Homo sapiens: one gene and its partner. The protein of the gene in region 1 purifies or fractionates together with the protein of each later gene. This does not show direct contact. Each region holds a gene or a part of one and is shown on either strand. Other genes may lie near its edges.

The links.
Region 2: the proteins of SUCNR1 (region 1) and PRMT8 purify together in Homo sapiens (affinity purification with mass spectrometry; one large-scale study listed by BioGRID and IntAct). This does not show direct contact.

Annotation. Positions count from the first base shown.
Region 1 is NC_000003.12:151,880,019-151,883,846, reverse strand, and holds part of SUCNR1 (succinate receptor 1), read right to left. Parts: intron 3,289-3,828; coding exon 2,299-3,288; 3' UTR 1-2,298. UniProt on the Homo sapiens protein: G protein-coupled receptor for succinate able to mediate signaling through Gq/GNAQ or Gi/GNAI second messengers depending on the cell type and the processes regulated.
Region 2 is NC_000012.12:3,493,936-3,497,763, reverse strand, and holds part of PRMT8 (protein arginine N-methyltransferase 8), read right to left. Parts: intron 1-3,828. UniProt on the Homo sapiens protein: S-adenosyl-L-methionine-dependent and membrane-associated arginine methyltransferase that can both catalyze the formation of omega-N monomethylarginine (MMA) and asymmetrical dimethylarginine (aDMA) in proteins such as NIFK, myelin basic protein, histone H4, H2A and H2A/H2B dimer.

The DNA of each region.
Region 1 (3,828 bases):
TTTGTGACAACAGTGATGGGAGATAATGTGAGAAGAGTAGGTGGGTCCAGACTGAAGAATCTAGACATCATTCTGAAGATACCAGGGAGCCAATTAAAAGACAAAATACAAAAGCTCAATATTATTTCCTTTAGAAACCACAAACCCAGAAAGGATTTTCATGATTTATTGTTTGTGATTCTTACAATTACCCAGTACAACAAGCAAATGAAATAGCTCTTATAATTTTAGTTTAGGGCCCTAAAGTCTGTTAAAGATTAAGTTACCACATGATAGATTTGAGGAAGAAAATAATTTTAAAATGTGCTATAAAATTTCTTAACCTCTTGTTTACAAGGTACATATATATATATATATATATATATATATATATATATATATGTGAGTTTATGGTTTGAAAAAATATTTCACTGCACTATTAGAAAGAGTCTATTCCTGTGACTTCTTGGAGTTGGGATGTAGGGGAAGCAAATTTAATTTTGTCTTTACAAGTAAAATTCATGCATAAAATACAAATTAAAGTTAAATTACGGATTGCCAAGTTTGCAGAAGTAAGTGAATCTTTCTTTCTTAAGGCCTTTTCTGTGGCCCTTTCTGATAAGGAAACTCAGAAGTTCTGTTTTCAGTTTGTTATTAGGCAGTTATAAAATTACAGTGAAATTTTTAAAATATTGATACTAAAGGCAAGGCATGGCAGAAAATATCTTAAAGCCTGGTGTGATGTAAGAAAATAAATCTTTTGTGACTAATGCATTTTTATAATATTTCAGTTGCTTGAAGTCTAGAGATATCAACTGGGAAAATTGGGGGATTTAAAAATATCAGAATACCTCCCAGAGTATTTCAGAAAAGGAAGGGACAGTGGAATTTTATGTCTCTGTATTCATAATGCTTATTTTGTCCTTCACATTACTCACTCCTTATAGCTAATGACATCAAGGAAAGGAACTTAGATATGTGGCCATAGGTACTTTATGTTGCATATCAAGGAATTATTATGTGATAGTTGTTTGACTTTAAAAAGCTAATGCAGCACCCATTTTTTCCCCTACATTTGTTTTGTGCAGGAAATGGGGCCTCATTAACCCTCCTGGGATAATACAGGTTAATATGCACATAAATATTTTTATGTTCTATAATTTCATGAAGTACATTTTGTTTGAAACATTTACTCCAATGGTCTTATGGTAATGTTGCATGAAAACAAGGCTCACTCCAGATGTGATTTGCTCTCGCTACAATAAAGTTATCCTTGTAAATTATTCCAGTGTTTACAAAAAATGGGGGATCATGGAGAAAAATTGTGACTTTCCCTCCAAAAGGGAAAACTATCCCAATGAATCTAGTATTATCAGTTTATTTCTCCTTATTTGCTGGTTTATGATATTAATATATTTTAAAGTTCACTATTAAATCAAGAGCAGAAGGCTAATGAACTTTAATATATTTTCATGCACTGGTGGTCAAATTATGATAATAAAATACCAGATGGCAAAATCATCATTTAAAACGATGTATTCACTTTTTGTTCTGTTTTGCTTTGGGTTTCCTGATAGGCATTTTGTGTTCTACAAATTTTTTTTTTATTCAAATATCCTTGGTGTATCTCTCTAGTATTTTGATACTTAAATTCTCTGACAAGCTCAAACATATTCTCTACTTTTGTTGAATTATCTCTTCAGGTTCTTTTTATTTAAATTAAGATTCTTTCCACTATAAACCCATACAACAAAAAGGTTAGATAAATTACAAGACTACCCCGATTCATGATGAATATAAAAAATATATCAGATAGATATCTTTGAACTCATTATATTCCTTTCTTAATCATTGTTACTGTTGACTTTACATTTGCTTAACAGCACAACTTCCAAAAACTATTTAATAATATATCTTCTGCTATTCAGTTCTCACATAAAGTTCTAGGATCATGTGAATAAGAATAACATAGAGAATGTTGCCAAAACAATTTTTTTTTTTTTTACAATCTGACCAGTGATCAAATGCAGACAACTTGTTGCTTTATATATCTTCCATTTTTGCACTGATTGAGAAAGCCTTATACTACCTAGTATTTTGGAGTTACATGCCCAAACATAAGGCAGTTCAACTCCTTTCAATTCTTAGAGGAAGAAACCAGTACATTCTTGTCGTCCCATTCTTTTCACATACTCTGGGTACAACTTGTCTTTAGATCAAGGTTAAATCTGTGACACTCTCTGATTGATGTCTATGAGTTAAGGCAAACTGTAACTGGCTTACAGATTCATCTGTAGAACAATCTGTTTCACAAGCCCCTCACTTTTCTCTGAATGAAAGTAGGAGTTCATGAGCCCATCTGCTAAAGGATGTAAGGGATTTGAAGTTGTGTCTCAGTTGATTCATCAGCATGTCCCTGAAGTGATCTCCCAAAAGAAAATAGAAGACAGGGTTGATGACACTGTTCAGAAAGGCCAAAGGCCGTGTCACAATGTAAAAGGAGTTGATGACGACCTGAGTGCACTGATACTGCTTCCAACTCCCCAGGCGTGAAGCGATCCTCACATTCCGCATGACGTGATAGGGTGTAAAAAGCACAGAGAAGATTACCACTGCCATGATGACCAAGTTGAGAGGCTTTTCAAGGGGCAGAGCAGTAGCAACCTGCCTATTCCTCTGCTTTAGGAAGAGAGCAATCTTGTAATAAAAGAAACACATCACAAAAAGAGGAATAAGGAACCCCAACAGTGTTAGACACATGCTGTAAATGAGGTTGTAGTTGGGGTCTCCAGAACTTGCAAAATCATTACAGGTGGTGCCATTGTCAGTTATAACAGGATTTATAAGGGGAAGTATGGGTAGTAACTCTAAGGTTACTAAAACCCAAATGGCCAAGGAGATTAAAATAGCAAACTCTTTCTTTTGCAGAAGGTGTTCTCGGAAAGGATACTTAATTATCAAGTATCGATCTATGCTGATAAAAGTGAGAAAGAGAATGCTGGTATAGAGGTTGGCATGAAGCACATATCGGTTGCTTATGCAGAGCACGTCTCCATATATCCAGTTTCCATTGGCATAACTCCTTATCAGCATGGGGAGGGTGCACAGAAAAGCTAAGTCAGAGACAGAGAGGTTAAAGAGATAAATATTACTGCTGTTCCAGTTCTTCAGAGAGAAGATGTAGCCGTAAACAACAATGGTATTTCCAAGGACTCCCACAACGAACTCAATCCCATAAAAAATGGAAAGGTAGTACTTTTCCAGGGCAGCCTCTGCTGCCAGCCAGTTTTTGCAAGTTGCATTCCATGCCTAAAGAAGAGAGAGAAAATATAAGGATTAAACACTAGACTGTGACTAATGACAAAACTGTGCAGAACATAATAATAATGAAAAACACTTGAATGGTGAACTATAGAAAGTAGGTTACATCAGTAAGGAAAGCATACACACATATATATATGTCATTAATGTATTATTTTAACAAATTTTTTGAATACCTTTCAACTATGTGCTGAATATAATTTCAGGCACGGGAGATAACAGCAGTGAATAAATCAAAGTTCCTAATCTCTAACAATTTATACTCTCTTGGGAAGAATAATCAGGAAGTAAACAATGAATGATACCAATAATGATAAGTGCTATGAATAAAAACATATGGGAAGGTAAAAATATTAGAAAGTTTTGGGATGGAGGGTGGCAGTGACTCATTTTTATATGTGGTGATAAGGGAGAGGCTTTTATACAAGATGACATTTAAACAAAAACCTCAATGAAGAAAGTGAAAGAGACATATCTATATTTGCAGGAAGTGTTCCAGGCATAAGAAAGAGCACATGTGAAGGCATT
Region 2 (3,828 bases), on another chromosome or scaffold:
GGCCACTCATTACAAATATGGGAAAAACTGTGATGCTTGAGGGAATTCTTATAACAAGTGAAGTAAGAAAAGACATTTGATGTGTGAAATATCCAGTGGCTATTTTGGCTGGATAATACTGGAGAGGCAAATCTCAAACACTCCTCTCCTAGCTATTCCTATTAGAAGTCTAATACCAGAATATCAGAAAAAGGGATTGGAATCAATTGGAACAAAAACTAGTAAAAATGGTGAGACAACCCCAAATGAAAAGGTAGCAGCCAGTTTTCATCTCTTTTTAGAATAACATAAACGAAGGTGACTCAGATTGCAATCGAAGAGGTTGAGCTCAGACTTCAGGGAGAACTTCCGACTACTGAGACACTCGAGGAGTTTGGGGAAATTCCCTTCTCTGAAGCTTTTTAACAAGAGACCAAGTGGCCAACAATGCATCTTCGGTTAGGTGGTTCTCAGGGACAGAGGCATGGACAGAATGACCTTTCAGAGGTCCCTTCTTGCCTGTGCTCACTCTATCTTGTTACTAAGCCAGTTCACAACAGCACCACCTGCTTGCTTCTCACACACAGAGGCTGCTTTCAGTTACCTTGGCTGTTCACATATTTTCAGGCTGCCCATTTTCCCCCTGCTGGCAGAGTAGACTCCAAGGTGTAAGGACTGTTTTTACAGATTTTTGCATGTTCCACACTGGTATGTGATAATCACTTCACATTGCAGTTAGCAAAGAGGAGGAAATGAAACCCACTCCTGAATTGGAGACAGGAGTGTTGTGTTTCACTGTCTTTGACAGCCAAAAGCCAATTTAGGACTCTGAAAAGCCAAATTAGCCAGGCAAAAAAAAAAAAAAAAAAATTGGGTATCTTCTTAATTCTCCTGAGCTCACTTAAGGACTGAAATCAGTGTTTGCGGAGGGAGGAAAAAGTCACATGGACTATGGTTTTATGGATCATTTCAGCTACAGAAATGAGAAAGTGGGAGAATACTTTCAGTTTGCACTTTTTTGGCAAGACTCCTAAAAGCTAGCAGGATAATAATCATAAACGCTTATTGAGAACTCACCATGTATAAGGCAATGTTCTAATTCCTTTGCATAAATTAACCCTTTTCATCTTCACAACAATCTTAAAAGGCCCAGAGACATTAAGCAACTTGCTCAATGTAGCAACACATCTACTAGGTCCAGAACTGGATTGAAAACCAGGAAGTCTGTCTCCATAGCCTACTAGTTAGTGTACACACTCTGCAGAAACAGACATAGATGAAGACCATCCTCAGAGAACTATGCCTGGTTCCTCCTCTTCCTCAATTCCCTAACCCCTGTAATAATGGGACCACATTCTTCAGCTGAAAGTAACTTCCTGAGGAGAAAGATCTATTAGCCAAAACCACCAAGATACACCATGCAAGAAGTCAGCTCAGTTATCCCCATAACTCACTGCAACCCCTAATCTCATTGTCACATTGTAGGATTTTTTCCAACCTGTAATTATTCCCTCTCCCTGGGCCAGCAAGTCAACAGAACATTCAAAAAAAAAAAAAAAAAAAAAAAAAATATATATATATATATCAGTTTCCAAAGTGACTCTTTGCTAAAACTGTTTCCCAACTCCTGGGGGCTCTCCTTTGAGGTGATAAAACCCTAATCAGGGAGTCATCGCCATAAATAATGCATCATGCATCAGACTTTCACCAAGTATCAGTAAAGCAAGCAGTAGCTCAGGAGGGTCCATTATCCCCCATGGTTCATAATTGGGCATTGTGATTAATCCATTTATCTGCTATTCAGATGAGCACTCCATAGTAAGAGTCGATAATTACTGAATATTGAATAAGTACATGAATAACCAAAATGTACCCATGATTTGACTGGCTTCAGCACCTTGATTCCCAGAATATTTACCCATTTTGAGTTTCAAAGGTTCACAGCAACTAAGTACAGCAGACAGGTGGGGTGGGAGATAGGAATCCCAATTTCCAGGAAGCCATGAGTGACTAAAGCCCATTAGGCTCAAGAGTTTGTTCACAATCACATACATCAATTCAGTCAACATTTATTAACATTTATTACTTATTGTGTGTCAGGCCCACAAATTCAAAAAAAAGTGCATTATCTAATAGACATATAAATAGACACACAAAAAGCCAATTATCTTGCAATAGGAAAAGTGAGAGACAGGCGTTAGGAACACATAAGAAAGGGTAATGCCCCTCCCTGGGGAGAGAGGATAAATGGCAGATCTGGGAAGCCTGCCCAGAGGAGGTAACGTTTGAGCTGGGTCTTGCAGGTTGAAAAAGATTGTTTTCCAGAGAGAAGAAGGAGGAAAGACCGGCACAGGCAGAGGGAAGAGTATGCACAGAAGCATTCACATATGCAGTCGGAGGTCTTTTCCAAGAATTGCATGATGCAGGTATTGATGGGCTTTGCACACCATGCTAAGGAAACTGGGCTTTATCTAGCGTCCTGTAGGCAATAGGACAGCATCCTAAGTTTTTAAAGAGATGCCTGATCATGAGCAGATTTGTGCTTCAGAAAGCTGATCCAGTACAGTAGGATTATGAGGCTTGATTAGAGAAGAGGACAAACAGTTCAGAGGAAAGTGCCTTAGTGAGGGCAGAGGTGAGATGATGTGTCTTGGGCACTGACAATGGGCTGAAGAGGAGAGTGGGACTGGAGGCTTTGCAAATGTTCCAGAAGGCCACAGAGGAGGTTTCTCATGACACCTAGGGAACAGGGGAGAGGGAGAAGAGGCTGGCAGAATGGTGATTCCCTTAGCCGAGGAAGAGAAGCATAGCTGAGTGATCAGGAGAAAGCGTACATGGAACTAACACTATTGCGTGTTTGCCATGTGCCAGGGGCTGTCCTGGCATTTCCTTATACCCATACCTGCCCTATTCCATGAGGAGAATCAGCTCAAGTTAACAGAGAAGGGAACTGAGGTCAGAGCGGTTGAAGAGTGCCCCCAGGGCCACCCATTGCCAACAGTGTCCAGCAAGCACGTGATGTTGATGCTCTCGTACCCTAGCTGGGTACTTCGCTTTGTGGAGGGAGGCTTTGGTCAAAATGTAAGTAGTTTTATTCTTCACTTGCTCCCTTCCTGCCCAATGGTTAGAGTATCTCTCCGTAGCTTTAGCTTTTGAACGAACACTTTCTCCCATCCTTGCCCACCTCCATCACTGCATCTCTCCCTTCCAAAGTATTCCTCTCTGCCCACTCCTCATCTACTCCCATTCACACATGGCATCTTGTTAGAAATAGCAAGGGCAGGGCAAACAGCAATGAATCAGAAGTGGGGGCAGTCTGTGTTTCAGGGCTGACTTAACCCACCAGAAGACTTTCAGCAATTGCTTGACCTCAGCCTCGGTGTCCTCAACTATAAAATGGGTATAAGAAATGAATACTAATCTTTGCTTATCTCACAGGATTGTTGTGAGGATGGAATGAGATAAACAACAAAAAGCAGGAAAAGGTGGCTACAGGATTATCCATCATAGTTGTCCATGAGACTGTGAGCCCCTCCAGAGGAGGGACCAGGTGGTCCTCATGTTTGGAACTTGGGTACCTAGCTTTCCTGGTACAGAGCCGGTGCTTGACAAAGAGGTGTGGAATTCAGAACTAGGACCACTACCACGCTCCCCACCACCCACTGACACACGTGGAGGCGTGCTCCTGCCGCTCTCATCTACCATAAATGCAGGCAAGTCCACAACACCCCACTTTTGGAAGTGCTGCTCTAGTCCTGGCTTATTCCAAAAACAGCCAGTTCCTGGAGGGAAACCAAGTGATTGTCACGCTGCCTGGATGCCTCCGCTAGGCACGTTTGACCAAGTCTG